3 separate regions of the Homo sapiens genome follow, and all the other regions are linked to region 3. Evidence: fine-mapped expression QTL. A gene starts in region 3. Each other region holds a variant in brackets. All regions are shown on one strand. Distances are from middle to middle.

Region 1 (9,789 bases), 32 kb after region 3:
CTTTGTCAGGTGAGGCAGGAGGATCACTTGAGGCCAGGAGTTTGAGACCAGCCTGGGCAACATAGTGAGACCCTTTACAAAAAAATTTAAAAATTAGCTAGGTGAGGCCAGGCGTGGTGGCTCACGCCTGTAATCCCAGCACTTTGGGAGGCTGAGGCAGGCGAATTACTAGGTCAGGAGTTCGAGACCAGCCTGGCCAACGTGGTGAAACCCCGTCTCTACTAAAATACAAAAAAAAAATTAGCTGGGTGTAGTGGCGGGCACCTGTAATCCCAGCTACTCAGGAGGCTGAGGCAGGAGAATCGTATGACCCTGGGAGGTGGAGGCTGCAGTGAGCCAAGATCATGTCACTGCACTCCAGCCTGGGCAACAGAGTGAGACTCCGTCTCAAACAAAAAAAAAAATTAGCCACTGTGGTAGCATGTACCTGTGGTCCCAGCTACTCAGGAGGCTGAGAAGGAAGGATTGTTTGAGCCCACGAGGTCAAGGCTGCAGTGAGTCGTGATCGCACTATTGCACTCCAGCCTCGGCAACAGAGTGAGACCCTATCTCAAAAAAACCCCAAAATCCCATTTATATCAATTTCAGAAACAGGTAAAATTAAACAGTCTTGCCTAGGAGTGAATACATAGATAGGAAAACTATAAAGCAAAGCAAAGACATGATATTATGAATGTCAGAGTAGCGGCTACTTCTCTGGGGAGTGAAAGGCTATGACCAGGGAAGGTCGCATGGGAACCCTGAGGCCCCCTGCAGTGTCCTGATTCTTGACCTGGATACTGGTTACATAGTGTATAGCCCAGTAGTGTGTAGATTTCACACTGATAATAAAAAGTTAAAGTTTACAACCTTCCAGATATCGTCTCCATGTCTTGTCCAAAAAGGTAAATGGGAGCTATGGAAGGGGAACTAGTGTTTTCAACTGCTGTTTAAAGACTGCTGGTTCTAAAGGGATGGCGAGAAAGAATAGGTTAAGGGGAACTGGACATTATATTGAAATGAGAGTATTTTAAATGGAAGAGACATGAGTTTGCAAGCTGAGGGGAAGTAGATAATAGGGAGATTTTGAAACGACACAGTTGATGGTACAATTTTCAGAAGGTGTGAGAGGAGGCGGCATCCACATTCGGGGGCAGATGTGTGTTGTAGGCATGCAGGTGGGATGGGCATGGGAGCCGCTAGGAGAGCATGTTGGCAGAATGACAGTTCCCATCTGAGGTCTCAGTTTCCAGTGTCTTCACTGAAGTGGGAAGGAAGACTGAGAGAGATACACGCTGTGCGTGCCAAGTGATTTCCTGTGACATTGACATTGGGCCTCATTGAGAGAGACTCGGTAGTTCTGTTCATTCAACAGTTTCTAAGCACTTAATTTGTTAGCACTGGGCTAGGCAAACAAAGATAGCTGGGGCTTATGTGCAAGTTGGAGAGATCTTCAGTGTAACGTGTAACTTTTGAGATTACAGTCAGCAGCACGCTACAGTTAGGGATTCCTGAGTGACTTAGTCACATGGGCTCTAGACTTTAGTGTGGAGCTGCATTAAAGGTTTCCAAGCCACCACTTTTGAGGTTATGGTACTGATAGGATGTCCCAAGCAACTTCAGCCCAGGCCTGAGAAGGCCGCGGACCTGTCATGTCTTTGCTCTTGGTTCCATTGCATTTGCTGCTTTGTAATTTAACTATGACTGTGTTTTTCCAGGCAGCCAGCTCCAATTCGAGGATTTTGGATTGTACCTGACATTCTGGGACCCACGATGATCTGCATCACCAGTACCTATGAATGCCTCATATGGCCGTTATTGTACGTCCCATTTTATATTCTCCACACAGCTCTTGTTAATTCTGCAATATCTAAGTTGGGAAAATGCACTCAGTAACCAACTTGAAGCTATACATGTGTGGTTTATACTTTGGCTTCTGACTTGAGGGTTGGAAGGATGGATATTTCTGTTCCTGCCATCATCTCTATAAGGTTTCATTGTAGGTATAGTTTCTGGCATCCCCTGCACCTAGCTGAGAGTCAGGAGCTTTTCTTCAGAGTGTGGAGAAAAAATACTAAAATTGAATACCAAATTCCATTATCGATATGAGTAATAATTATCAAGCTGTGACCATACGCCAAGCTCAGAAGTAAGCCACGTACCCGCACTGCCTCCTGGAATCATCAGGGCAGCCCTGTAAGGAAGGCACTGTCATTTCCATTTTATAAAAGTGGAAACGGGGATCGAGAGGTTAGTAAATGCTGAAGTCACAGGTAACAAATAGAGCTGGGATACAGATGCAGGTCTCATTGACTCAGAAGTCCATACTCATACTCTTTAATTTCTCCATCTCTGCCAGCCTGAGGGACACTGTAGACTATGTAAACTGGAATAAAGCTGAACTCAGGCTGGGTGCAGTGGTGGTTCATGCCTGTAATCCCAATGCTTTGGGAGGCCCAGAGTTCGAGATCAGCCTGGGCAAAACAGTGAGACCCCCATCTCTACAAAAAACAAAAAAATTAGCCAGGCATGGTGGTACACATCTGTAGTCCTAGCTGCTCAGGTGAGAGGATTGCTTAAGCCCAGGAGTTTTAGGCTGCAGTGAACCATGATCATGCCACTGCACTACAGCCTGGGTAACAGAGCAAGACCCTGTGTCTTTTAAAAAAAAAAACAAAAAAGCTGAACTCTTAGTCTTTGCTCCTTTAAGGAACTCAGATAATTAAGCTGTAATCACTATGTTCCTTTTCCAACAGCCCTGGAAGATCATTCTGAGTTACATAAATGTAGGAATATGAGTACCAAAAACAAAAGTCACTGGAGCTTCAAACACTAGACAACACCCCCACCCCTTGTCCGTTCAAAGCTTGCACCTCTGGATGCTGACATAAATTCCTAATACTGGCAGTAGTTTACTGTCCTTAGAGGATCTTCCATAGTCTTTGAAGCTTGATTAAGTTGTACTATCTGGATGTAAAAATAAATATAAATTTTGTGTTATTTACACTGAAGGCACTAAAAGCTAGCAAGACCAAACAAAAATAATAAAATCACTGGAGAAAAAATTACCTGTAAGTTACCTCAGCATACTTTTTAAACACCCACAGTACATTTAGTAAAATAAAACCTAGTCACACTAGCTTACTTCAGAATAAATATGAATCCCAAAGGGGAAAAATAAACATTAATTGTCTGGATATTTTTTTTTTTTTTTTTTGAGACGGAGTTTGCTGTGTTGCCCAAGCTGGAGGGCAGTGGCACGATCTCAGCTCACTGCAACCTCTGCCTCCCGGGTTCAAGTGATTCTCCTGCCTCAGCCTCCCTAGTAGCTGGGATTACAGGCGCACACCACATGCCCAGCTAATTTTTATATTTTTAGTAGAGATGAGGTTTTGCCATGTTGGCCAGGCTGGTCCTGAACTCCTGACCTCAGGTGATCCACCCACCTCGGCCTCCCAAAGTGCTGGGATTACAGGCATGAGCCACCGTGCCAGGCCAATTATCTGGATACTTTCAGATCATATTTCTGCCAACTCCCTGAAATACAAGTTGTCTATAAAGTTATGCTATTTCATGAACTTTCACTTTTTTTTTTTTTTTTTTTTGAGACAGAGTCTTGCTCTGTCACCCAGGCTGGAGTGCAGTGGTGTGATCTCAGCTCACTGCAACCTCCGCCTCCTGGGTTCAGGCGATTCTCATGCCTCAGCCACCCAAGTAGCTGGGATTACAGATGTGTGCCACCACACCCAGCTGATTTTTATATTTTTAGTAGAGACAGTTTTACCACGTTGGCCAGGCTTGTCTTGAACGCCTGACCTCAAGTGATCCACCTGCCTCGGCCTCCCAAAGTGCTGGGATTACAGGCGTGAGCCACCACGCCCAACCAAACATTCACGTTAGAATTGTTGCCTTCAGAGTAAGTCACTTGCCATGCTGCCGAAGTCTGTGAGATCTTTTAAGCTCTTTTTGAAGTTTGAGTATTTGCACTTGACTGAATAGTTTTTAGAAATGAAATTATATAGAACCAATATGGTATATACAGCAGTTTCTTGGCTTAATATTGGTTTTGATCAACTCTAAACCTAACAAATAAGTAATTTATGTTTGTGGCTCCGGCTTATAAACTGGCTTTCAAGTCCTTTGCCAAGAATCCATGCTAGGTGTTTGTGCTGCCTTGATCTTTTAGAAAAGAACTGGAAATGGCAGTCAGAAATGCTTTCACAAATCAGGGGCATTGGAATAATAAGGGTGTAGCTTCCCAAAGTGACCTTTTCAAGGTGGAAAACATGCATTCTTGCACTTTTACAAAAGTTACACTTTATTTTATATTCTGAAAGTTCTGGATTAATGTGGTTTCTGCTTTCCTGTAATACAGTAAATCACTCCATGGTAGAATTCAATTTACTTACTTATTTTGCAGAAGTACAGTCCATCCAGCGTCTCCTCCCCTGCTTTGTACTCGAGAAGATGTTGAAGTGGCAGAGTCTCCCCTCCGTGTTCTGGCTGAAACCCCAGATTCCTTTGAAAAGCATATTAGAAGCATTTTGCAACGTAGTGTTGCCAATCCAGCATTTTTGAAGTATGCAACCTTGGGCATAGCGGTTTTATGAATGGGTTCTCTTCTGTCTTCAGAATTACTGTGCATCCTTTCTGTCCTCATCTGTTTCATATACTTTTTACTGTGATAAATTTGGAAGAAACTGGATATATTTGATCAGCTAGTGAATGGGGAGCAGGAGGGAAGTGGCACCTGAGAATGATAAACAGGAAGTGTTTAAAAAGAAGTTAGGCTAGGCCGGGCGTGGTGGCTCACACCTGTAATCTCAGCACTTTGGGAGACCAAGACGGGTGAATCGCGAGGTCAGGAGATCGAGACCATCCTGGCTAACACAGCAAAACCCCATCTCTACTAAAAATACAAAAAAAAATTAGCTGGGTGTGGTGGCAGATGCCTGTAATCCCAGCTACTTGGGAGGCTGAGGCAGGAGAACCGCTTGAACCTGGGAGGCAGAGGTTGCAGTGAGCTGAGATCCCACCACTGCACTCCAGCCTGGGCGACAGTGAGACTCGTCTCAAGTTAGGCTGGGCACGGTGGCTTACAGCTGTAATCCCAGCACTTTGGGAGGCCCAGGCAGGCGGATCACCTAAGGTCAGGAGTTCAAAACCAGCCCGGCCAACATGGTGAAACCCTGTCTCTACTAAAAATGCAATAATTAGCCAGGCGTGGTGGTGGGCACCTGTAATCCCAGCTACTCGAGAGGCTGAGGCAGAAGAATTGCTCGAACCTGGGAGGTGGAGGTTGCAGTGAGCCGAGATAGCACCAATGCACTCCAGCCTGGGTGACAGAGCGAGACTGCATCTCAAATAAATAAATTAAAAATATAAAAAGTTTAAAAAGCACCTGTGACTTGAGTCTATTTATTTTCAGTTGTTTTACTCAGCTAAGGAAAATAAAGGTAGAAACTTTGTTTTTAAGAGCTTCTGAAAAGGACATAGCCCCTCCTCCTGAAGAATGCCTTCAGCTCCTCAGCAGAGCCACCCAGGTGTTCAGAGAGCAGTACATTCTCAAACAGGACTTGGCAAAGGAGGAGATTCAGCGGAGGTATGATGTCCTGTGTTCACAAACCATCGATCCCTGGCTGGTAGCTGATGCTGTATGGTAGCCTAGACCTGGCTTCTGAATAAACTCTATTTCTTTTTGTTTTTAAAGGGTCAAATTATTATGTGACCAAAAAAAGAAACAACTAGAAGATCTCAGTTATTGTCGAGAAGAGAGGTAAGTGTCAAAAATAAGAAGAATACAATAGGTCAGTAAGACTGGAACCATATTCTCACCCTAAGATGCTGAGCCACATTAGGTGGTTTCAGCATCAAGGGGTGGACCTCAAGAGTCTCTTGTGTCTTACATCATTAGGAAAAGTCTGCGGGAAATGGCTGAGCGTTTAGCTGACAAATATGAGGAAGCTAAAGAAAAACAAGAGGATATCATGAACAGGTCAGTGGGCTGTATAACATTTAGTTACCTAGTCAGGTACTAACAACGATATTTAAGAAAATGGGCATTGGCAGGTGCTTACATACCTACGGAACTGAACTGATCCCCCTGCCTCTCCTCTGAAGTATATGTTGGGGAAAACATGAGGCTCTCCCCTAACCCTTCCTATGGGGCCTACTTCAGAAACACCAGATTCATGAATTATGAGCTTGTGATTATGTTTCTCCTAATTAGTAGAGACCTTAAATTGAGATGTTTGCTTGCCTTTTCTAAAGGATGAAAAAACTACTTCACAGTTTTCACTCTGAGCTCCCAGTTCTCTCTGATAGTGAGCGAGACATGAAGAAAGAATTACAGCTGATACCTGATCAACTTCGACATTTGGGCAATGCCATCAAACAGGTAGGAATAGATCCAAACTAGCTAAATTTGGTAATTTTTCTTAAAGCACTTATTCTACAGAAAATTTTACAAAAATGTAAAAAGAACAGATTCAAATAGATACTGTGAAAATGTGTGGCAAACCACTGCCAAAATATCTATTATTTTAATACTTAAGGTTACTATGAAAAAGGATTATCAACAGCAAAAGATGGAGAAGGTGTTGAGTCTTCCAAAACCCACCATTATTCTCAGTGCCTACCAGCGAAAGTGCATTCAGTCCATCCTGAAAGAGGAGTAAGTAAATACTTCCAATCAGCTATTATCGTGAGATAGTTTTTCCTTTACAGTATGCCAGAATCAACCTGTCTTAATAGAAACCTGAATCTTGGTATTTGCATGTCAAGTAATTACTGGGATGAGAGCCACATGATACATAGGGACTTAAGAAATGACT[ATG/G]GTGGGAGGATTGAAAGGGATGACCTTCTAGTAACATGATTTTGTTGTGTGGCCAAAGGTATTTTACAGTAATTATGTTCAAAAATATTTCCAGTACTTGCACCGTTTGCCACCTTAAATGAATAGTGAACACTATTGCTATCCACCTGAAACCTTCAGCTGTTAATTTTAGCAAAGCAGTTCTTAGATGTTTCAACATTACCAGTTTAAATTCTTAAGAATCCATATAAATGGTTTATTATAATTCCAAAAGTGAGTGACTTTACAATTTTACAGGGGTGAACATATAAGGGAAATGGTGAAGCAAATCAATGATATCCGCAATCATGTAAACTTCTGACACCACCAGGAGCTGACTCACACCTGAACTGAACACCATTGAAGGCTTAAACCCATATTGTAAAACAGGTAGAATTATCTAATTTATAAAAAGGTGTTTTGATGACCTTTGGTGTGGTTCATCTTTTTAAATATGTTGTTTTATAATAATTGAGTAAATGCTTTTATTTAAAATTTGGAATGTGCTTTATAACTCAAGCCTACAGTTGTGTTCAGCAAGGACTCAGGATTATTTCACACTGCACACTGCCAGAACCTCCCTGAACCCTATTGAGTTTTCTCCATATTTGAGCAAGTTAGTTATTCTTGTGAGCTGTGTTTTAAAGTAGCAGCACCAGAAACATGACTCTGAAGAGGGATAGAACCCTAGGATTCAAAGGAGAAGACCACACAGTGTACTTGGCAGCAGCTTTTTTAATTTGAACACTTTCTTCTTGAGGACACACCTTCAGTACAGTTAACAAATGGTTACACCTGAAATCTGCTGAGAGCAGAGCTCAAGATCCACAATTGCAAAGGCCACTGCTGGCTCACTTCCTCACAAGCTGTATTACCTTTCAGAGCTGAGTGAGGCTGTGCTCTACGTCCCAATACTTGTTACTGAGTGGACATGAGGTGCAAGTTTAGCACCTTAAAGGGAGAAAAAAATAGGTTAGTATGCAGAATGTGATTTTGTCCTCACTTCACCTTAAGTCATCTTTTTACACTTGCCAATGTGAGTTCTGAAAGGTACTACTATATCTGCTTAGAAATGGCTGAGTGACTGTCAATTAAAAGCCACATGATAAGGTAGGTTACAGGTAAGAGGTAAATCAGGTTAGACATGCATGAGAACATGTAGGCACAGACTGAATATAAGCACAGGAACACTCGTGAAACCCAACTGAGCTTTTCTTTTGCCTAGAAGGGCTAAATCCTGCCTTCTACATCAGTTCCCATTTATGCTGAAAACCCAGTTGAAAGAATTGTTTCCTACCTGGACAGTGACACAGTAGTTTGTTTCATACCAGAAACACATTGCTAAACAAAACTTAAGAGTCTCAGTTTGGGTTTTTCTACAATAAAGTGAATTCCAACAGTTGGCATTTGCCACAGTAGAGACCACTAACCATTCCCTAATTGTGATGATTTTATTACCCAGCACCATCTTCTGGAGAAAAATATCTGTAAGGTGCTCAGTCTCAGCAGAACACTTCACTGCAAGCTCTAGTTCAGTCAGTTCAGAAAGGCTGTGAATTGCCCACCCTGATTTACAGCACTAATTTTAATAATCTGAAGACAAATTCGCTTGGGGCTTATCCAAGGGACTAGTCTTAAACCTACGTAATTTAAATTGATTGCATTTTATAATTAATAAAATCCCCTGTAACTCAATAGTTATATGTTTCCTTTATCTAAACCATGTAGCACTCTTTATAAAGGGACTTTAAACCAATTAAAATAATGTTTCATGTGCGGCAAGCCTTTAGTACTATTTCCATAATTGGTATTTATTTTTAAATTCATAACCATGAATGCAAGACTACAATAATAACCCAAGAGATGAGGTATGTAGTACTTATCATTTGTCCTATGGAAGACAGAAGTACAGAAGATCTTTAGGGTAAGTCCATAGTGACCTCATTTATAACAAAGACAATTCACTTTAAGTTGATGGTGGCGTTATGTGAACAAAACAATCTACCTAGTTCACTAACTCCCAGAAGGCTCTTTCAGGTACCCTGCTGTTATGCAACCAGTCTCAAAAATGATTTGAAAACCATCTTACTTTTGAACCTCCTGGATGATGAATCCATCCACTGGATATTCCTGGGACAGTACTCTCAGCAGGTATTGATGAACATGAATCAATTCTTTGTGCTTTCTGTAGCACTTCATAAAGTTATGGCAAAGACCTGTTTCACTGAGGCTTTCTTCACACAGGAAAGGAATCTAATGCTTGTAAAATGACAAGACAGATTTCCAATTCTAACTAACTGGCTTTCCATAAGCATTGTCACTTACTTACATTCCAGGTCTGAATTCAAAAGAAAAATACAAAGTATCTGTCAACCTAGTTACCATTTTTGTATTTGACACATTTGAAACAAGTAGTACGTAAGCCTAATGATCCAAGTTGAAAAATTAGCCTATTTAAAAACGTATACTAATGTTTTTCACTGATCCAATAACTAGACTAAAACACTTCAAAAGAGTAGATGGTACCAGTTCGGCTTTATCCTGGTACCCTGTGGGCCCATGAAGATCATCTAAGTATGCAGAAAAAGTGCTTCCAAAGTTTCTTGTGCTTTTCCTTTAACCTTCAACTTCCAGTATATATAGCCCCAGCCAAGTTTTCAGATCCTCATCATTAATTCACTTCATGAATTGGTTTTGTTTGCCACAGTCCTATGGTTCTCAGGTAAGTTTCAGTAGCATTTAAGGTCCTCCAAAGCAAGATAAGATAAAATGGTAAAAGGAAAACAAAATACAGTCAGTAGCCAATGGCCTGCTCTCAAACCTTCATATTTTAATATAAAATATTCATACAGCATACTACACTTCTGTCTGCTAACTGAATACTGTTACTGATGAGCTCTAGACAACAGATAAAGCAAATTCTCTCTTCCAATATCTATGAACAGAAAATTCCAAAC
Region 2 (9,789 bases), 830 kb after region 3:
TCTCTGAGCTTCAGAGAGCTTAGCATTGGGCAGCCCCGAACACCACTCATCTGTGCCCTGCTCCCTGCCCTGGGGGCCAGGATGAACCACAGCCCTGGCCCTCTGTCTTCAGATTGGGTTCAGTCACCATGAGGCCCTGGCGTGAGGCAGGAGGGGAATGAGGTTGGGACACTTATCCACAGCTCCCTCCCTGCCAGGTCGCAGCGAGCTGACTGCAACCATTTGCCCAAAGCGCAGCTCTTATCAGACAGTCCTCCGCACCCAGGCCACGGGCTGAGATCCGCCACACTGCTGTTATCCCGAGGCTGCTGCATGAGGCCTGACCCACGACCTCATTCCTGCCCACGCCTTTGTAAAGGGTCCCTTTATTAAACTCTCCTCGCCCAGTTCTTGACTGTGCCCCCGTCCGCCGCTGGAGCCCTGGCAGACAGACCTGACTTTGCCAACTCTCCTGAGGCCCTCGGCCAAAAACCAAATCCCGAACTGGCTTTCCAGGTGCCTCCTGACCCCAGAGCCACCCCCAAATCTTCACCCTAGAGGTGGGACCTAAGAAGCTAGGCAATTTCACAATAAATGCCAGAACACCATTTCGGGAAGGAAAATCTTATTGGAAGCAAAAATCTCCTTTTAAGTGGCCCAGGTCATATCCAGTTCCTTGCTAACTGGCAGCTGTGGCTCATGCAAGCAACGGCATCTCTCCATCAGTCCAGAGAGGACAGATTCAGAGCTTTGGGGGACCCTGTCCTGCTGCCCTTCATGCCTGGTCTGTGGCTGGTCTCCCAGAGTGCACCTCAGAAGCTGGGCACCTAGCAAAAAGGGCAGGTCCCCAGGAACGGAGTCCCCCTCCACCACTGAGTGCTGTGTGACTCTGGGAAAATCCCTCTCCAGGCCTCAGTCTTCCCATCTGCACAAGAGGTACACAGACCACATGGCCCCAGGGTCCTTCAGCTTTGCAGACAGCGGCCCGACATCCCACTCGCCCCCATGCCCCACCTGGGGAAGAAGTTGGGCTCAGGGACTGGGCTGGGGCTGGTAGCCAGCAGGAGCCACCATACTCACTCGGCCATGGTGAAAGCCAGCTCGAAGTTCTTCTGCCTCTGCGTGGGGCTCAGGGAGTTGTAGTCAAAGGCATCGGGGAAGAAGGAGTGTACCAGGGCGCAGAAGGCCATGCCGTCGCTCCAGCTGGAGGAGAAGTTCTGCAGGTCCACGTGCTGCAACAGGGTGAGTGGGGTCAGTGCGGGAGGGCAGCTGGGCACCCACTCGGAAGGCATAATTACCGTGGTTCCTACCCCTTAACCCCAGCCTCAGCGGGCTCCTGCCCAGGCGGGAGAACAAGGACAGGGGCGACGCTTGGTCAAGCTTTTAGCTGGGGCGTCCCAGCAGCCGGAGGGGAGCCGGGGCTCACCTGGTAGCCCAGCGTCTTGCTGCGGCACCACTCGAGCAGGATCTGCTTGATGCTGCTGGCGCTGGCCACGCCGAAGCTCTGCGACCGCTTCAGCCTGGCCCGGGCCTCGCCTTTCCCCCTGCGGAGAGACGGCAGGCCTGCTGCGGGGGCCCCTCCAGCTGCCATCTCCCAGTGCGGGTCTGGGGCAGGGGAGGCTGTCCTGGCACCACCAAGGAGGGTGCTCCCACCTGCTCTGCTCACCCAGGGGAGATGCTGGTGGCACACGTGGGCTCAGCTGTGCCCACGTCCACGGCACAGCCCATGTACCAGCGACACAGCCTCCTTTGATGGTATGTGGCAGGACCGTCCACACCCCTACAGCCCTCCAGGTCCCCTGTTTATTCCCCATCCAGGAAGCAGGGGTCACCTGGGAATCCTGAGACAGAAGACCTTGGCTCACATGGCCCTGGGCCCCTGCCTTCTGCTTTGGAACACCTTTCCCAGCTCCTTCCTCCCACTCCTCCTTCTGAGCTCCCCTCTTAATGGGGTGCCTCCTTCCCTGATGGCTCTTTCCTAGCCAGGAGGGATGAGTTCCTCTTCTGGGCCCCAAGGACAGTCCCTAATGGCCTAGGCCAGGTTGTTTGGGGCCAGTGGGGAGATGTCCGGGGTCGGTCCCCCTCACTAGAGTCGAGCAGGGACTGGCTGTCGTCTTCATTATCCCACAAGGCCTGGGCCACACCCTGCACACAGCAGGCATCAATACCACGCTTGGGCCACACTCTGCACACAGCAGGCATCAATACCACGCTTGGGCCACACCCTGCACACAGCAGGCATCAATACCACGCTTGGGCCACACCCTGCACACAGCAGACATCAATACCACGCTTGGGCCACACCCTGCACACAGCAGGCATCAATACCACGCGTGGGCCACACCCTGCACACAGCAGACATCAATACCACGCTTGGGCCACACCCTGCACACAGCAGGCATCAATACCACGCGTGGGCCACACCCTGCACACAGCAGACATCAATACCACGCTTGGGCCACACCCTGCACACAGCAGACATCAATACCACGCTTGGGCCACACTCTGCACACAGCAGGCATCAATACCATGCACTGACACGAGGACTGGCTGAATATGCAAAGGTGGGCTGGAGCCTGAGGAGCCGTCGCTCGAGACCTAGTAGCAGGCTGGAGGCCACTCGGCCCCGTGGCATCACCTTCGGTCCTTGGGCAAGACCAACCCCATGCTGGGGCTCCCAGCTCTGGCCAGGAATCCCAGTCCCCATCCAGTCCCCGGTCATGCCCAGAAACCAGAGGAGCCACAACCCCTGGGGAATGTGGGTGTGAGGGCAGCCTGGCGGCACCAGAGACAGGACAGGGGGCCTCGGGAATGGAGGAGGAGAGAGGGGCTCTCACCAAGCCTTCCTGGCTCCCTGCCTCACAGCCATCTCCCCCAACAACTGGGGTCCTCTGTCCCCCCAAGCTGCCCTGTGGCCCAGCCCTAACTTTGTGCCTTGCCCAAGAGATCTTGTCCTGGGCAACAGCGCCCTGGGGAACAGGACAGGGCTGAACCTTGCCCTGCTGCACCCACCCAAGCCCCGTCTGGGTCTGGGCACACCGTGGGGCCGGGCCTGTCTGTGAGTGGGCATCCGTACTTGCCGGCCGCCGTTTCCTGCTCCCACTTCTCAAACAATGCTTTCCGGGCCTGCGCCTCCGAGGTGCGGGGCAGCGTCTGCGACCTCACCAGCTCCCTGCGACGCTCCCCCTGCCGATGGACCTGAGTTATGGCTGGCGGCTGCGGGGACACGGGCGACTGGGGTGGTGTCACCAGCGGTGGGCTGAGGAAAGAATCGCCGAGTTGGGACCTGGGCCCAGCAGCCATCACTAGCTCACCAGGCCCCAAGGTCTCCATTGCACTGAGTGTGGACAAGGCAGCCTGCACCGTGATGGGCGCTCAGAGAAGAGGCCCCCTTGCTCCGGTCCCTAGCTGGTTTGACAGGTTTTCTGAATTGTGCTGGCTGGAGGGACTGGCCAATAGGCTCAACTCAGGAGACGCTGGGCCCGATCTGGACATAACCACCCCTTTGCAGGTGTCAATGCCTGGGGAGGACAGAGGGACCCCCTCCTCAGGCAGGAGGTGTGCTCAGAACCAGCCCCGGAGGGACCAGGCCTCCTGCCTCCACCACCATGCGATAAGACCCCCTTTGTTTTCCCCAGAACGGTTTGCCAGAAAGTCACAATTCTCCTTTTATTATTAAAGAAAAAAAAAAAAGCCAAGCCTGCTACCCTACCCCCATCCCCAATCACAGTCCCGCTGGCTGGCTGGGGGGAGGCCTGTGCCACAGGGAAGGACCTGCTCACCTGCCCCTGCTCGCAGCCCGTGGGCAGGAAGTTCCGGGCTCTGAGGGACCCCAGCTGGCTGGGATGGAAGAAGACAAAGCTCCTGTCCTCTCCCTCCTGCCGGCTGAGAGGCCTCCTCCAATATTTTTTTGTTTTTTATTCATTTATTTATTTATTTATTTATTTATTTTTTGTAGATAGAGTCTCACTCTGTTACCTAGGCTGGAGAGCAGTGGCACCATCTTGGCTCACTGCAAACTCCGCTTCCCGAGTTCAAGCGATTCTCCTGCCTCAGCGTCCCAAGTAGCTGGGATTACAGGCACCCACCACCATGCCCAGCTAATTTTTGTATTTTTAGTGGAGACAGCGTTTTGCCATGTTGGCCAGTCTGGTCTCGAACTCTTGACCTCAGGTGATCCACCCACCTCAACCTCCCAAAGTGCTGGGATTACAGGTGTGAGCCACCGCGCC[C/T]GGCCACTCCTCCAATCTTTTGACTGACTTGAAGGTCCCACAAAGAAACCAGGCTGTGACCATATTTCTCCAAATGAAACTCTCCACCGAGGCCCACTGCCTCACTCCCCCTGCTCAGACCTTCCCCCCATCCTGCCGCCCAGTGCTCCCGAGATCCAGCCCCGAGCCTTACCAGGAGGCACCAACCCCAGGGCCAACCCTGGGCGGCCTGCGTCCAAAGCAGAGAAGACACCTGGGGCGCAGCGACCCCACAGGAACACAGGCCCTGACTCACCTATTGCTGTGTTTGCTTGCTGTCACTGCCCCATAGCCAGAGCTTGGCACAGACCACGTGAAAGAGGAATTCTTCTCTGTGGAAGAGAGAGGGAGAGAAGTAACAAACCCTGGCCCCAGGGAGGGCCCGCCATAGCCTCCCTTCCTCTGACCCAGCCCTGCCTCATTTACCCGGCATCGCTGCATGGATGAGCTAACCTTCTGGGCTAAGCTGGCCCTGCCTCAGCAGACAGTGGAGGAGAAAGGAGGATGGGCACACACAGCAACAACATCAAAGAGGTCTTTTCAACTGTCCCCGCCCTGCTCTTGAGAGCACAGAGCCCAGGGCCCGTGCCATGTATCCAGTGAACACTGCTCCCAAACCCTCCCTATAGAGGCCCACACGGCTTCCCCCAGGACATACCACGGAGGACTGGCCACAGGCCCAAGTCAGGCCTGGGGCCTTGAGGGAGGGGACAGTGCCCAACGTGCAGGGCAAGAGGCCACCTTCCAACTGTAATAAAAGCCACGGTCGCCCCCACCAGGGGATGACGCTATTTCACAGCATCTCTGGGCAGTAGCCCGGGAGGATGGGCTAAGGGAAGGGGCTGACATGGCAGGCAGAGGCAGGGCTGGGCTTAGCCCCTCGTTTTCCATGTCACCCACCGACTCCCTCTCCCCAGCCCCGGCCTTCCCTCTCCCATCCCAAGGGGAGGTCTGCCCCAAGGCCACGCTCTCCAGCTCATACCGCTAGGACTGGGAGTCCAGGGCGTGATGACCTCGCTGGGGCTTGGGTTGAGGCCCCCCAGGGTGGCAGCAGACATGGGTGATAGAGCCGCAGCTGAGGTCTCCCCAGAGAACCTGTCAGAGACTCGGGTGATGGCCGTGACTGGCTGGTGGGGCAGCCGCAAGGAGAGGCTCACAGGACGAGGCCTGGGGGGATCTGGTGCTGAGAAGTTTTGGGCAATCTCAGGGGGTCCATCGCCTGGACCTGGAACATGTGACCAGCATGGGTGGGTGGTCAGCTGTGGCAGCCACAGGGGCCTGGGACCTCCCAGGAGGGCTCTAGCCTCCCTGGGCCCTCCTCCCACCTCCTCTAGGAAGGCCTCCCTGACTGCTCCAGCCTCTCTGACCTCCCCTACCAGGGATATCTTACTGCTCCAACCAGAATTGATTTTTCCCAACTTCCCCTCATGGCCAGCTTAATAAATACTAGTCGGCTCCTCAGCCTCTATTTGCTTTCCTCTAGAAACAGGAGAGCTCACTACCTCCTGAGATCTCCCAACTTCCCTCTGTGTTTCACAAGTTCTACTGAATGACGCTGCTCTCCTGGCAGCCTCTCTCCCTGCTGGGGTTCAGGATAGAGTCCCCCCGATGCCAGGCCAAGGGCCAGCCTGGCACAGATACCTGACCAAGGCCTTACTTAACCCCCAAACCTACCCAGCCACCCCTCCTCTGCCGTCAGCCCTACCTGCCCCCGGCTGGTGCCCATTTTCCATGATGCAGGAGTTTGAGGTCTTTCTCATCTCCGACTCACTGGCCTCATCGTGATCCAAACTCTACAGAGACACAAATGTCACCGAGACCCCATCAGCTAGGGCCAGCTGCCCACCCCCAAAAGCTGCCCACCCCCAAATCCCCTCCCGTTCTGGCAAAACACCAATCATGTTGAGAGAAAACAGCCCCCAGGAAGAAAGTGACGGGCCAAGTCACACAGCAAAAGCTGGGATGGCCCCACTCCAACTGCTGAGCCCCTGCGATCCTGGGAGGCAAACACCTCCACTGGGCTCCTCCCAGAGTCCCAAAAAGCTGAGGACAGAAGTCAAGATGGAGGGTTCCAATGACATTAGGCCCCCTCACCTTTTCCCCCAGGCTGGACCAGATGATGGGGTCAGGAGTGCCTCGCCCCCTGCCCCTCTCAGCTGGGCCAGGTCGGCATGGCTACCCGTGCAGGGGCAGCAGGAACCAGTGGCACCAGGTCCTTCTGGGCCAACGATGAGCTACGGAGCCCTGATCACGATGAGATCTTTGCATGGGAGGCGGGGACACAAGATTTACCCGGCTATGCAGAGTGCAAGCGCCTGATCAGCTCCGTGCGACTCATCCATCCCAGCTGGGCAGTAGTAGTGGGTGGGGCAGGTGGGGGCAGACAAGACAGCCAAGGCCAAGAGCCAGTGGGGAGCCTGGGATCCAGGCTGTGCTGCCACCCACCCATGTGACCTGGGCCACATCAGTTCCCCTCTGGGTCTGTTTCCCTGTTTGAGAAACGGGAGCAGGCTAGGCAAGTGCCACTCGGCATCTACCAAACATCCAGCCCTTTTTCCGGTGCTATCCTTATAGCAACACCTTCTAAACACCACTTATAGCAACTGTCCTCCCCGGTAGGTGCTGCCAGAGCCATTTCAGAGATGGGGCCCGAGGACTCCCAGAGGGCATGTGCCCTGCCCAAAGTTATACAGCAAAAAACAGCTGGCACGTGTGGCCAGGGGAGAAGTCCTCAACCTTGGTCCTGCCCTCCTCACAGCCAGGGCGTGTGAACGGCTGAGAGTGTCTGTGGGGCTGGTGGGGGCTCCACCACGAGCCCAGGACGAGCGGCTTGAGAGGTCGGCTGTGCCTCTCCCAGATGCCCCCTGGTCTACAAGGTTCCCAGGCAAATGATGTTGCATCCCTGGCCCCAGATGGCTCAGCTCCTCTTGCAACCAGTGCGGGAGGTGCCACCCTGCCATTGGGGAATCAGTCTGGGAGGGGAGCCAGGCTGGTGAACAGAGGGGGCCGTGTCAGGATAAGGATGCCTCACACAGGCTTCATCTGACCCAGTGGGGCAAGGAGGGCTTCTCAGAGGCAGGGGTGCCTGAGCCACATCCAGAGTGAGCCCGGTGGAGGAGCAAGGGAGGGCACTCCCAGCAGAGTGATTAGTGTCTGCTTTTGCAGAGAGACATCAAGGCACAGGTATCCTGATCATGCCCGTCCAGGACGCAGGCAGATGGAGAAGTGCCCTGCCGCCCAAGCTGCCTGCCCTGCCGCCCAAGCTGCTGGCCCTGGGTACTTGACGCCTTAGACAAGAAGGAGCCCAAGGTCCTCGGCTCTGTGTTTCAGGCACACCCTTCAGAAGATGCCAGAGAGTGGAGACCAGATGGCAAGACACTTCACTAGTCCTGGGCAGGAACCTGGGGAGGGGAGATGGGGCACTGGGAGGGCCACGGGCAAGAAGGACTCGGAGCTTTGGGGAAAAGGGATCTGGCTGGGAGACTGGGTGGACATGGAAGAGGAAGGGTGCCAAGCCTCTCCCAAGCCCAGACTTGGTGGGTCAGGGCAGGTTTAGGGGCTAAATGAGGGTTTCAGTTGGGACATGTTGAGGGCCTGGGGCACCTGGAGCATCAGGGAGCTGAGGAGGTAGCTGGATTTTTGAGTCTGGAGTTTAAGAGAAAAGAAGGACGAACATGGAAAAACAGGAGTCAGGGGCATGCACTGGGCTCCTGGAAGCCCAGCAGAGGAAGAGCAGCTTAGGGGCCCTGGGATGAGGCCCCCACATTTCAGGAAGCAACAGAGCAGTCTGCGGAGAATGAGGAGCAGCCAGAGACGTAGGAGGAGCCCCTGAAGAATGGTGAGAAAGCCAAGGCCAGGAAGGAAGGGAGTCAAGAAGCCAGGCACGGGGCCAGGCGCGGTGGCTCACGCCTGTCATCCTAGCACTTTGGGAGGCCGAGGCGGGTGGATCACTTGAGGTCACGAGTTCAAGACCAGCCTGGCCAACGTGGTGAAACCCCATCTCTACTAAAAATACAACAATTAGCCAGGCATGGTGGTGGGTGCCTGTAATCCCAGCTACTCAGGAGGCTGAGGCATGAGAATCGCTTAAACCCAGGAGATGGAGGTTGCAGTGAGCCAAGATTGCACCACTGCACTCCAGCCTGAGCAACAGAGCGAGACTCTGTCTCAAAAAAAAAAAAAAAAAAAAAAAAAAAAAAAAAAAAAAAAAAAAAAGCCAGGTGCGTCCAAAGGCAGCCTGGGGTTGAGGAAAAGGTGAAGAGGAAATCCAACCAGGCATCCATTGGGTTCAGCAAAAGAAGAGGTCATGGGTGATCAGAAGCGTGGGGCGGGGGACAGGGGGTTGGGGGACAGGAGATGGCCTAGCAGAGGGGTCCCAGAGAAATGAAGACAGCGCAGTAACTTTAGCCCTGAGCGAAGCCAGGGGAAAGGGTCTGAGGGGTTTTTCCAGAAGGAAGAGGCAAGACCACATTCATAGGGTGAGAAAGGTGAGGGGAGCATCTGCAGAGCGGGACCACTGGGGAGCTCACAGCAGACAGGACCCAGAGCCTGGGAAGAGCCAGCCTTGGAGAGGAGGCGACCCCTGAGCTCTTGATTCAAGAGTGGGAGGAGGAGAGGCCAGGCCCACTCTCAGAAACGCAAGAAAAGCACAGGGCGTCTCCCAGCACGCAGAGCAGAACGGGTGCCCCTAGAGCCACGCTGCGGCCGTGTAGACCATGTCGGCAGGGGGAGGAGAACCAGCCAGTCCAGCTGGAACCCCGGCCCCCACAGTCACCAGGCTCTGGGGTCTCCGTGCCCCCTCACCCACCCTGCTCTCGTCTGACAGGTTCCACAGGTCCAGGCGGGGCTCTGGGGGGAAAGGCTGAGGGTGAAACCATTTTCCCAGGAAATATGTTTCTCTATAGGTGGGTGGGAGGCCCTCCGCAGATGCCTGTCCCTGCACGTTGCAGCCCCTCAACAACCCCCATGATGCCCCAGGGGACCAGGCGCTACACCAGACTGGGAGTAAGTTCTATCCTGGTTAGATCACTGCTAAGGGTTCTCCGGCAAAGGGAGGAGGGGAAGGGGCTGGGCTAATGCAGGCTGGGGTGTAGGGCTGAGCCCAGACTCCCAAGCTCCCCTGCCCCACGACTAGAAGCATTCGTCACCTGGGGAAAGGGGTCTGCCCGTGCCTTAGGTCAAGGCGCAAGGGGCTATTCTGAGACCATCCTCCAACCCATCATCACACAGATGGGGAAAGCAAGACGTGGGGTGGGGCAGGGGGAACCCCTAAACCCCACACCATGACTAAAGGTAGTGGCAGAGCCAAAGTACGGGACTCGGGTCTCCCACCCCAAACCAGGGCTCTGTCCACAAAGTGCTCTGGCCTTCTAGGGGGCAGAGAGGACAACTCAAGGCAAAGTTGTCTTCCAGGACCTGGGTCAGTATGAGCCCCGGCCCCATGGGATCTGTCTTAGCCAATGAGTGTGAGGAAAAGGCGGGGGACTGGGGTCACCACCCAGTGGGACCTTCACAGAACTCAGAGGTCTTCAACCAAAGGGCTGGGCTGGAACGAGCTGTC
Region 3 (9,789 bases):
CAACACAGTAAATCCTTGTCACTTCAGACTTATTAGTTAAGTATGCCCCAAAATAAAACATTTGGTCAGGCTTATGTTTCACCACTAAGATAGGTTTTGTAGGTGGGGGAAGGGAAAATCAATAAAAAAAGATGATAACTTAAGGAATTTACAGTCTAACCAGAGTCGACAGCAACAGTCATTAACAACTAACACTTGCATGGCACTTATGTGTCAAATGCTATTTTAAATTCCTTACATATATTAACTTCTTCACTATTATTATCCTTATTTCAAAGGTGAAGAAACTGAGGCACGGGGAAATTAAGTGCTTTGGTCGGTGCCACACAAATTAAAGTAGTAAAGCCAAGTGAATGTTAGAGGTATGACTCAAGAGCTTGTGCTCTTGCCTCACCATAATAATAGCTGTTGATTATTGAAAGCTCTCTATATGCCAGACAATGCACTAAGTCTTCTACACACGTTATTTAAGCCTTACAACAAATTTATAGGGTATTCTCTCCATTTTATAGGTCATAAAAATGAAGCCTAAGGCTGGGGGCCATGCCTCATGTCTGTAATCCCAACACTTTGGGAGGCTGAAGTAGGAGGATGGTTTGAGTCCAGCTGTTTGAGACCAGCCTAGGCAACATAGTGAGACCCTGCCTCTACAAAAAAATTTAAAAAATTAGGCTAGGCATTTTGGCTCATGCCTGTAATCTCAAAACTTTAGGAGGCTGAGGTGGGGGGATCACTTGAGACCAGGGAGGAGTTCGAGACCAGCCTGGGCAACACAGTGAGACCCTGTCTCTACAAAAAAATAAAAAAATTAGCTCGGTATGGTGGTGCACACTTGCGGTCCCAGCTACTCGGGAGGCTGAGATGAGAGGATTGGTTGAGCCTAGGAGGATGAAGCCACAGTGAGCCATGATTACATCACTGCACTCCAGCCTGGGCAACAGAGCAAGAACCTATCTCAAAAAAAAAAAAAATACATAAATAAAATAATTTTTTGTCTTGTTTTTATCATCTTTAGCTAAAAAAAAAAAATTAATAAAAAAAAATTAGCCAGGGGTGGTGGCACACGCCTATGATCCCAGCTATTCAGAAGGCTGAGGTGGGAAGATCGCTTAAGCCCAGGAGGTCAAGGCTGCAGTGGGCCGTGATCACGCCACTGCATTCCAGCCTGGGCAGAGACCCTGTCTCAAAAAAAACAAAAACAAAAACCAAACAAGGCCTAATCAAATCAGGGCTACATGGAATAAATGACTTAACTATATAAGGTACAAAATTATGCTCTCTACACCATGCTATGGACACCTCCCTCAAGGAGTGGATGCTCACAGGCCCTGGGGAGTTAATAGAGAATGTGGCACTTAAAATGAATAGGGCAAGGGATCAGACCATGCACTATCACTGTATCCTGTAAAATGGCAGGTTTACTTTTTTTTATTTTATTTTTTAAAGTGACAGGGTCTCCCTCTGTCAGCCAGGCTGGAGTGAGGTGGTAAAATTATAGCTCACTGTAACCTTAAACTCTTGGGTTCAAGTGATCCTCCTGCCTAAGCCTTCTGGCTGAGGGAGGCTACAAGTATTTGCTACCACACCCAGATAATTTTTTTTTTTTTTTTTTTACTTCTGTAGAGACAGGATCTTGTTATGTTGCCCATGCTGGTCTTGAACTGGCCTCAAGCAATACTCCTGCCTCAGCCTCTCAAAATGCTGGGATTACAGGCATAAGCCACCACCCTCAGTGAACTATTAACCCATTAATAGAGAGGCAGGATGGTAGAAGAAACATGGGAACTGGATTCATACAACTGATTTTGCTTCCCATCTCCTCCACTTACTAGCTGTATGACCTGCACGAGAACACCAACCACCTTCTGTTCTAATACTACTATCTTACAGGGCAGTCACATGGAGAAAACAGCATCATTAAATGAGAAGTTCTTAGCACAAGGTCTAGCACCCTGGAGACCCTTATTATTGAGAAGCTAGACAGCCAAGATGTCAGAGTACAAAAGGAGTCTTTTGGACACTTGACTGATGGAGGTAGACAAAGGGGACTTATAAACTAATCCTGATTGGAGGAAAGGTCACAGTATTCCAGTAGCTAAATACAGGTAAGGAAGGACTACCACTAGGGGTTACCTTGGTTGATCAGCTCCTGTTGAATTTCCTCCAGCACAGCCATGTCTATCAGCTCCTCCAGCTGGAAGAGAAAGGAGCGGCATCAGAAGTTTGAAGTATTAATCACCAACCAAGCCCCACAGTGATTCATACTTGGAGGCTGGCTTGAAGAACCCAGATTTATTGGACAAAATCAGTCCAGTCCTCCTGCAGAATATGCTGACAGTGGGGTAATGCTGTCATGCTGACAAGCCATCAACAAATGATCCAACTATCCAGTGACAAAATAATGGTACCCAATTTTGGAGAGACGATATAGGGTAGCAGTTAGGTACATATTCTTCCAAGGCTACGTAACCACATGAAAAGTTCCTAATCTCTGCAAATCTCAGTTTTGGCCTCTGTAAAGTGGGAATAAAATCTATCTAAGAGGGTTACTGTGAGTACTAGTTGTGGTGATATAAGGCAAACATTGGTGTACTGCAGGACACACAAAAGCCACTGAATAATGCATCATTATTACACAGGGTGTTGATGGTTTCAAACAGTTGCCCACATTTTCTTACACAGTCCTTACAATGCTGAAAACATTATCTTCTCATTTTATAAATGTGAAAACTAAACCTCAAAGAGGCAAACTGAAGTTAACAGTCAATAGCCAAACCAGGATTTGAATTCTGGAACTCCTGACTTCGAATCCAGTGTTCTTCCTGATACACTATAAATGGTTTTCCCTTCCACACATGGCTGCCAACGTTGGCTGAGATTAGAATCGGAAAGTTTCTGGAGACCTTTTTAGAAAGAGATTCCTGACGTGGGCAGATCACTAGAGGTCAGGCGTTCAAGACCAGCCTGGCCAACATGGTGAAACCCCATCCCTGCTAAAACAGAAACAAAATTAGCCGGGCATGGTGGCACACATCTGTAATCCCAGCTACTTGGGAGGCTGAGACAGGAGAATCGTTTGAACCCAGGAGGTGGAGGTTGCAGTGAGCCGAGATCTTGCCACTGCACTCCAGCCTGGGCGACAGAGCAAGACAGAAAAAAAAAAAGAGCGAGAGAGAGGGAGAGAAAGAGATTCCTAGCCTATGCCTACTGAATCATAATTTCCAAGGGTGGAGGCAAGAAATGAAATTTCTTTCTTTTTAGTTTCATAAATGATGATGTTGCAGTGATGAGCAGGTCTACGGTCTGGTATTTCAGACCATTTCATCTAGACAAGTCTAACATTAAGTGTAGAAAAGCCTGGGTTAAAGGCTGTTGAATTCTAAATGGGGTTAGGGGAATGGTGGGTTTAGAGGACTCAAGTAAACAAATAAAAGAGGACACGAGCCGTTCTTGGTGGTGCAGTCCCCCTCCCTGAAAACACATAGCCCAGCCTGACCTGAGCCAAGTCTTCTGGACAATTCTCCACTGACTGCAAAGCATTCCACTCTTCTTCCATCACCTCTTGAACTAGAAAGCTGTTCTGAGAATTCCCTGGCCCACTGCTTCCAGCCTGGCGGTACCTGTTTAGGAGCCTGTCCCGGCTGTTTCTCATTCTCTCCAGGCATCTCTGGGAAAAAAGAGCAAGATTGGGGGGGAAAAAAAAAGCATTTCTATTTTTAAAAAACACTCTTACATTAGTTGAGAAAACATTAAAGAAAGTTTATAGACACAAAATTTCAATGATAATACTAACTAGTGTTACTTTTGCATATTCCTCTGTAGAGATACATAAAATTACAATGCTTTGTACACGTATTTACAAAGAACCATATTTTTTATTCTAGCTTGCCAGTTTCCTTAATGGTTGTGTGCATAATATCTCAGCATCCAATGTCCTATTACAGAACATTTATATTCCTTCCAAATTCTTGCTACTCTAGATATGGCTGGGTAACGGCCTTCCTGCACAGCAGCGTTTCTGAACTCAGGGAGGTTTTGTCCCCCAAGGAACATTTGGCAATGCTTGGAGACATTTCTGGTTGTCACAATTCTAGTTATAGGACTATTAGCATCTAGTGGGTGGAGGCCCGAGACGTGGCTTAAACAACCCTCCACAACATATAAATATCTCCCTCAAAATGTCCATTGTCAAGGCTGAGAAACTCTGCTGTATCTGCTATCTTTCTTGCGTCGGGTTACTTTCTTGGACATTACTTACTAATAACCACACTGTGTTCAGAAGAGGCCAGAACTGAGGTGGAGCCCTCTTCTAAGCCTCATTTTACTACTCTCTAGAATAGAAATCATCTCTATCTCACAAGACGAACGTAGACAAAGTGCCTCTCTCGGTGGCCACCTCCGCAGCAACAGTAGGTAGTGTTATTGCAGAGGTGCAAACGGTGATGTCCTGACCACAATTTAAATTCAAAACAAAATCGAATCCAAAAACAAGGCTTTCTAGGACTTGACCGACCCGGGCTAATCCCACACTCTACAGTCAGCAGGCCTGGGTTTGACCAGACCAGGCGCGCTGCGGCACCTGCTCCACGGAGCAGGGCTAAGGCGAAGGCAGGGAAGACGGCGGTCACCGGGACGATCTAGGGTAGACCACTGCACAAACCCCATACCCACCTGCCGGAAAGCCTCTTTCCAAGGCGGCGAGCCCACCAGTTTGTACAGGGAGCGGCGCGGAGACCTCAACGACTCCGCCATCTCCTCTTCGCGGGAGACAAAGCCACAAGACCCGTTCCCTGGAGGCGCGCACAGACCCCTGGGAGGTGTACTTTCCGGGTGCAGACCGCGAATGGATCGCAGCGTATTCTGGGAAGTGTTGTTTTATCGACCGGCCCCACGTGGAGACAGATTTAGGCATCCAAGCGAAATGCGTGAGGCCAGCCCGACCTGCACTGAGGGAGGTAAGTCTTGAGGGAAAGTTCTGGATGCCTGGGTTTACCCAGATGGAGGTGTCCAATAGGCAATTAGATACACAAGTCTCAGGCTCTCCCCAGGTGCTAGATTTCCAGCAGCACCACCATTATGTTGACTTCTCGTCCCGCCCCCTTGGGCTTCAGAAATAATGGTGATTGGCTTTCCCTTGGTGACGCCCCTGCTTGGTGGGCTGGCCTCGCCTTCGCCCCCCGACCTGGCACGAGCCTCTCGAGCTTCCGGGCCGTCTGCTCGGTGATTGGCCGAAACAGTGAGTGGACGGCCGCGGATTGGCTGTGCTCAGCGGCGGGCTGAGCAACTGGAGTGAGGGGAGCAGTTGGGCCAAGATGGCGGCCGCCGAGGGACCGGTGGGCGACGGCGAGCTGTGGCAGACCTGGCTTCCTAACCACGTCGTGTTCTTGCGGCTCCGGGAGGGACTGAAAAACCAGAGTCCAACCGAAGCTGAGAAACCAGCTTCTTCGTCGTTGCCTTCGTCGCCGCCGCCGCAGTTGCTGACGAGAAACGTGGTCTTTGGCCTCGGCGGAGAGCTTTTCCTGTGGGACGGAGAAGACAGCTCCTTCTTAGTCGTTCGCCTTCGGGGCCCCAGCGGCGGCGGCGAAGAGCCCGCCCTGTCCCAGTACCAGGTAATGCCAGGCCGATCTTGGAAGTGACCCTCACCGGGATCGGAACCAGTCTTTTTTGTTCCTTGCTCCTCTTGGCTGTTTTTCATCTTGTGGCAGGCGTTCCAGCGGATTGACTCCGACGCTGCCATACGCGGTCGCGGGGACTCAGGCTCTCTCGATGCTTACGGCCTGGAGGCCTGGGAGGAAGGAAAGGGTCATTGAATATTCAATAAAAATACTAGTGACGGATGAGTGCTCTGGAGAAAAACAAAGCGGGCTAAAGGGGTTGAGAACGAGTGGGCGGAGTTGCTATTTTTAGTTTCGTCGAGAGAAACCTGTTTCCTGATGTGACGCTTATAATAGGTTAGATCGTAACTTTCTCTTGCGTTGTGCACAGCAAGTCAGGTTGCAGGTTTCAAAGCACCACGCTTCATGCTTGACATGGAGGAGGAAGTCTCTGTTAATTCTTACCCCCGTAACGCCCGCTTTAGAAAATAAAGCCATACCCAAAATGGGGATTTTTGTTTTTGATTAGCCGACAGCATGTGAAAATGGGTGTGATCCAGAAAGTATTACACACTTGCCGTGGTCAAATATTGGTTTATGGAAATGTTTATTTGTAATACACAGATTCTCTTAAAGATGAAAAAGAGCTTGGTACTCATTCTAAGGTATGACATCTGTTGTGTGCCCGGTCCAATTCTTGTTACCGAGAAGTGATTTAATTTTAATAAGACGCTAGCAATGCTTCTGCAGTTTTGAAAATAGGGCAGGAGTCTACAGTCTACTTATTTACCCAATTTCAGTTAAAAAGAATTATGAAGGCCGGGCGCGGTGGCTCACGCCTGCAGTCCCAACACTGGGAGGCAGAGGCAGGTGGATCACCTGAAGTCAGGAATTCGAGACCAGCCTGGCCAACATGGTGAAACCCCGTCTCTACTAAAAATACAAAAATTAGCCAGGTGTAGTGGCGCGCCCTTGTAATCCCAGCTACTCAGGTGCCTGAGGCAGGAGAATCGCTTGAACCTGGGAGGAGGAGGTTGCAGTGAGCTGAGATCACGCCCCTGCACTACAGCCTGGGCAACAGAGCAAGACTGTGTCTCAAAAAATAATAATAATTACCAAATGTGCAGCACGCAGTATTCTAATAACATTCTATACTGCTGTGTAGCATTTGACATAATCATAACTTAATTATTTATAATTATTTTGTGTCTTTTTTTTTTTTTTGAGATGGAGTTTCGCTCTTGTTGCCCAGGCTGGAGTGCAATGGCGCCATCTCGGCTCACCGCAACCTCCACCTTCCAGTTTCAAGCGATTCTTCTGCCTCAGCCCCCCCCGCGAGTAGCTGGGATTACAGGTATCTGCCACCACGCCCGACTAATTTTTGTGTTTTTAGTAGAGACGGGGTTTCGCCATGTTGGCCAGGCTGGTCTTGAACTCCTGACCTCGTGATCTGCTGGCTTTGGCCTCCCAAAGTGTTGGGATTACAGGCGTGAGCCACTGCGCCCGGCTGTTTTTGTTTTGTTTTGTTTTGAGGCAGGATCTCGCTCTGTTGCCCAGGCTGGAGTGCAGTGGTGCAATCTCAGCTAACTGCAACCTCCACCTCATGGATTCAAGCGATTCTCCTGCCTCAGCCTCTTGAGTAGTTGGGATTACAGGCCCACTCCACCGTACCCGGCTACTTTTTGTATTTTTAGTGGAGACGGGGTTTCACCATGTTAACCAGGCTGATCTGGAACTCCTGGCCTCAGGTGATCCACCCGTCTTGGCCTCCCAAAGTGCTGGCATTTCAGCCGTGAGCCATGGCACTCTGCCTCTGTCTTCTTTTCTAGACTGTAAGCTCCAAGGCAGGGGCTGGGTCTGCCCTTGTCATTTTTTAAAAACGTATTTTATTTTTTATTTTTGAAATGGGGTCTTTCTCTGTTGCCCAGGCTGGAGTGCAGTGGTGTGATCACGGCTCATTGGAGCCTCTACTGTCAGGGGTCGAGTGATCCTCCCACCTCAGCGCCTGGAAGTAGCTGGGACTACAGGCATGTGCCACCACGCCTGGCTATTTACTTATTTTTGTATGTCCAGCATACAGAAATGCTGGAGTGCCCAGAATTTATAAGCTTTCAGTAAATATTGGTGACTATCTCAATAACCTTCACTCCTCCAAAATCTCAAAACCTTAGAGATGGGGAAGAAAGCAGCTTATCATGAGTTGTAACTTTGGATGTTAAAAGCAAGCATGAGTAAGCTGGGTGTGGTAGCTGTAGCCTATAATCAGCACTTTAGGAGGCCAAGGTGGAGGCAGGTGGATCTTGTGAGCACGGGAACAGGTGTTCAGACCAGCCTGGGCAACATGACGAAACCCCCATCTCTACAAAAAAAACCTTTTTAATTAGCTGGGAGTGATGGTGCACACCTGTAGTCCCAGCTCCTCTGGAAGCTGAGGTGGGGAGGACACTTGAACCCCCATAGTAAAGTCTGCAGTGGGCTGCCACTGCACTCCAGCCTGGGTGACAGCAAGACTCTGTCTCAAAAAAAAAAAAAAAAATTTGTGAGTTAATGGTACAAGTGTGAGTACTTATCCAGAGTTTTATTATCCTATAATTGTAGTAAACTAAGTATTACTGTGATTTCAAGTAACTGCCACCTATATTTAAATTAAAATTAACTATGTTGACTGGTTTGCTCTAATTTTCAGAGATTGCTTTGCATAAATCCACCCCTGTTTGAAATCTATCAAGTCTTGTTAAGCCCAACACAACATCATGTAGCACTTATAGGAATAAAAGGACTTATGGTATTAGAATTACCTAAAAGATGGGGGAAGAATTCTGAATTTGAAGGTGGAAAATCAACAGTGAATTGTAGGTAAGTTGTATACTATTTATCTGTATAATTTATTATATATACAGAAAATTGTTCAAGACTAGTGGTTCTTAAGCATGTTTAGTATACTACTCTTAAAACATTAAAACACTCCTCGTGGTCTGCAGACTGGCTTCTGTGTTATCAATGTTCATAGTATATGTGTAATTGATTGTACTTTATTCTGCCTGAAGTACCACGTTGCTGTCTCATTTGAGGCTAGGCCATTCTTTCGATTAGGTAGAAGTAAGATTTTGTAAAACCAGTTATCTGTCAGCCAGAAGTTTGCCAGAAGTGTAAGTATTTTATGTGTGTGTGTGTGTGTGTATGTGTGTATATATATATATACTTTTTTTTTTTTTTTTTTTTTTGAGATGGAGTCTTGCTCTGTCACCCAGGCTGGAGTGCAGTGGCACAATCTCGGCTCACTGCAAGCTCCGCCTCCTGGATTCAAGCGATTCTTCTGCCTCAGCCTCCCGAGTAACTGGGATTACAGGCAAGCGCTACCATGCCCAGCTAATTTTTGTATTTTTAGTAGAGACGGGGTTTCACCATGTTGACCAAGCTGGTCTTGAACTCCTGACCTCAAGTGATCCACCCACCTTAGCCTCCCAAAGTGCCGGGGTTATAGGTGTGAGCCACCGCACCTGGCCTATTTTTATATAATTTCTTTTTCAACAAATCCAGAAAAGTGAATCTGAAAGATCTACTGAAAAGAGTACAGATGCTTTTCAACTTACGATTGGGTTATGTCCCGATAAACCCAGTGTAAGTTGAAAATGGATTTATTGCTGACAACACAGCAGAGGATCCCCGATTTAGGATGGTTCAACGTAGGATTTTTCAACATTATGATGGGTAACCCCATCATAAGTCGTAAGGAGCTCCTCAGTTTATGTTGGCTTATGTACTGGTAAACCCATTGTAAAGTTGGGGATCATCTGTATAAGGTAGAAACTGCTTTTAGCTCCGCAACTTATAAGTTGAGTCCCCTTAAACTGTTTACCTTCTAAATCTGTTTCCTCATTTTAAAAATAGGATTGATAATATCTGCCCTTGTAATTTCCTTACAGGGTTAGTAAAAAGATCAAATGAGATACTATATCTGAAAACACTTGTACTGTATAAATATGTATCAATCCTAAGTCAAACCATCCTAAAATGTATATATACGTATGAAATATGCTATAATTTGGAGCCAGGCACGATGGCTCACACCTGTAATCCCAGCACTTTGGGAGGCCGAGGCAGGTGGATCACCTGAGCTCAGGAGCTTGAGACCACCCTGGGCAACATGGTGAAACCTCATTTCTACTAAAATACAAAAAATAAGTGGGGTGTG

The links. PIP is the estimated chance that this variant, and not a neighbour inherited with it, causes the effect. A credible set is the group of variants that fine-mapping cannot tell apart.
Region 1: its variant is the best candidate, but not a certain one, in a credible set for the expression of NUP88 in cerebral cortex (GTEx, PIP 0.68).
Region 2: its variant is the best candidate, but not a certain one, in a credible set for the expression of NUP88 in CD4 T cells (BLUEPRINT, PIP 0.82).

The regions. Positions count from the first base shown.
Region 1 is chr17:5,383,571-5,393,359 of GRCh38, reverse strand. RABEP1 (rabaptin, RAB GTPase binding effector protein 1) reads right to left here. Exons shown (of 18, transcript NM_004703.6): 18 at 7,020-9,789. It overlaps NUP88 (nucleoporin 88), which reads left to right. Exons shown (of 17, transcript NM_002532.6): 10 at 1,698-1,799; 11 at 4,400-4,558; 12 at 5,456-5,581; 13 at 5,690-5,755; 14 at 5,894-5,974; 15 at 6,250-6,376; 16 at 6,534-6,652; 17 at 7,091-8,527. The coding sequence ends at 7,154. Among named protein-coding and RNA genes, the nearest start is that of NUP88, 31 kb to the left of the region's middle. The variant ATG/G (reference allele first, on the strand shown) is at 6,813.
Region 2 is chr17:4,588,594-4,598,382 of GRCh38, reverse strand. It overlaps SMTNL2 (smoothelin like 2), which reads right to left. Exons shown (of 8, transcript NM_001114974.2): 2 at 5,935-6,022; 3 at 5,212-5,454; 4 at 4,486-4,561; 5 at 3,056-3,238; 6 at 1,406-1,523; 7 at 1,060-1,211. Among named protein-coding and RNA genes, the nearest start is that of SMTNL2, 9.0 kb to the right of the region's middle. RefSeq lists an enhancer at 4,936-5,507. The variant C/T (reference allele first, on the strand shown) is at 4,212.
Region 3 is chr17:5,415,174-5,424,962 of GRCh38, reverse strand. NUP88 (nucleoporin 88) reads left to right here and starts at 5,301. Exons shown (of 17, transcript NM_002532.6): 1 at 5,301-5,609; 2 at 8,281-8,450. The coding sequence starts at 5,313. It overlaps RPAIN (RPA interacting protein), which reads right to left and starts at 4,781. Exons shown (of 7, transcript NM_001033002.4): 1 at 4,672-4,781; 2 at 3,497-3,667; 3 at 2,134-2,194. The coding sequence starts at 4,752. RefSeq lists enhancers at 4,510-4,729, 4,740-4,859, 4,589-5,126, 5,127-5,664, 5,300-5,939.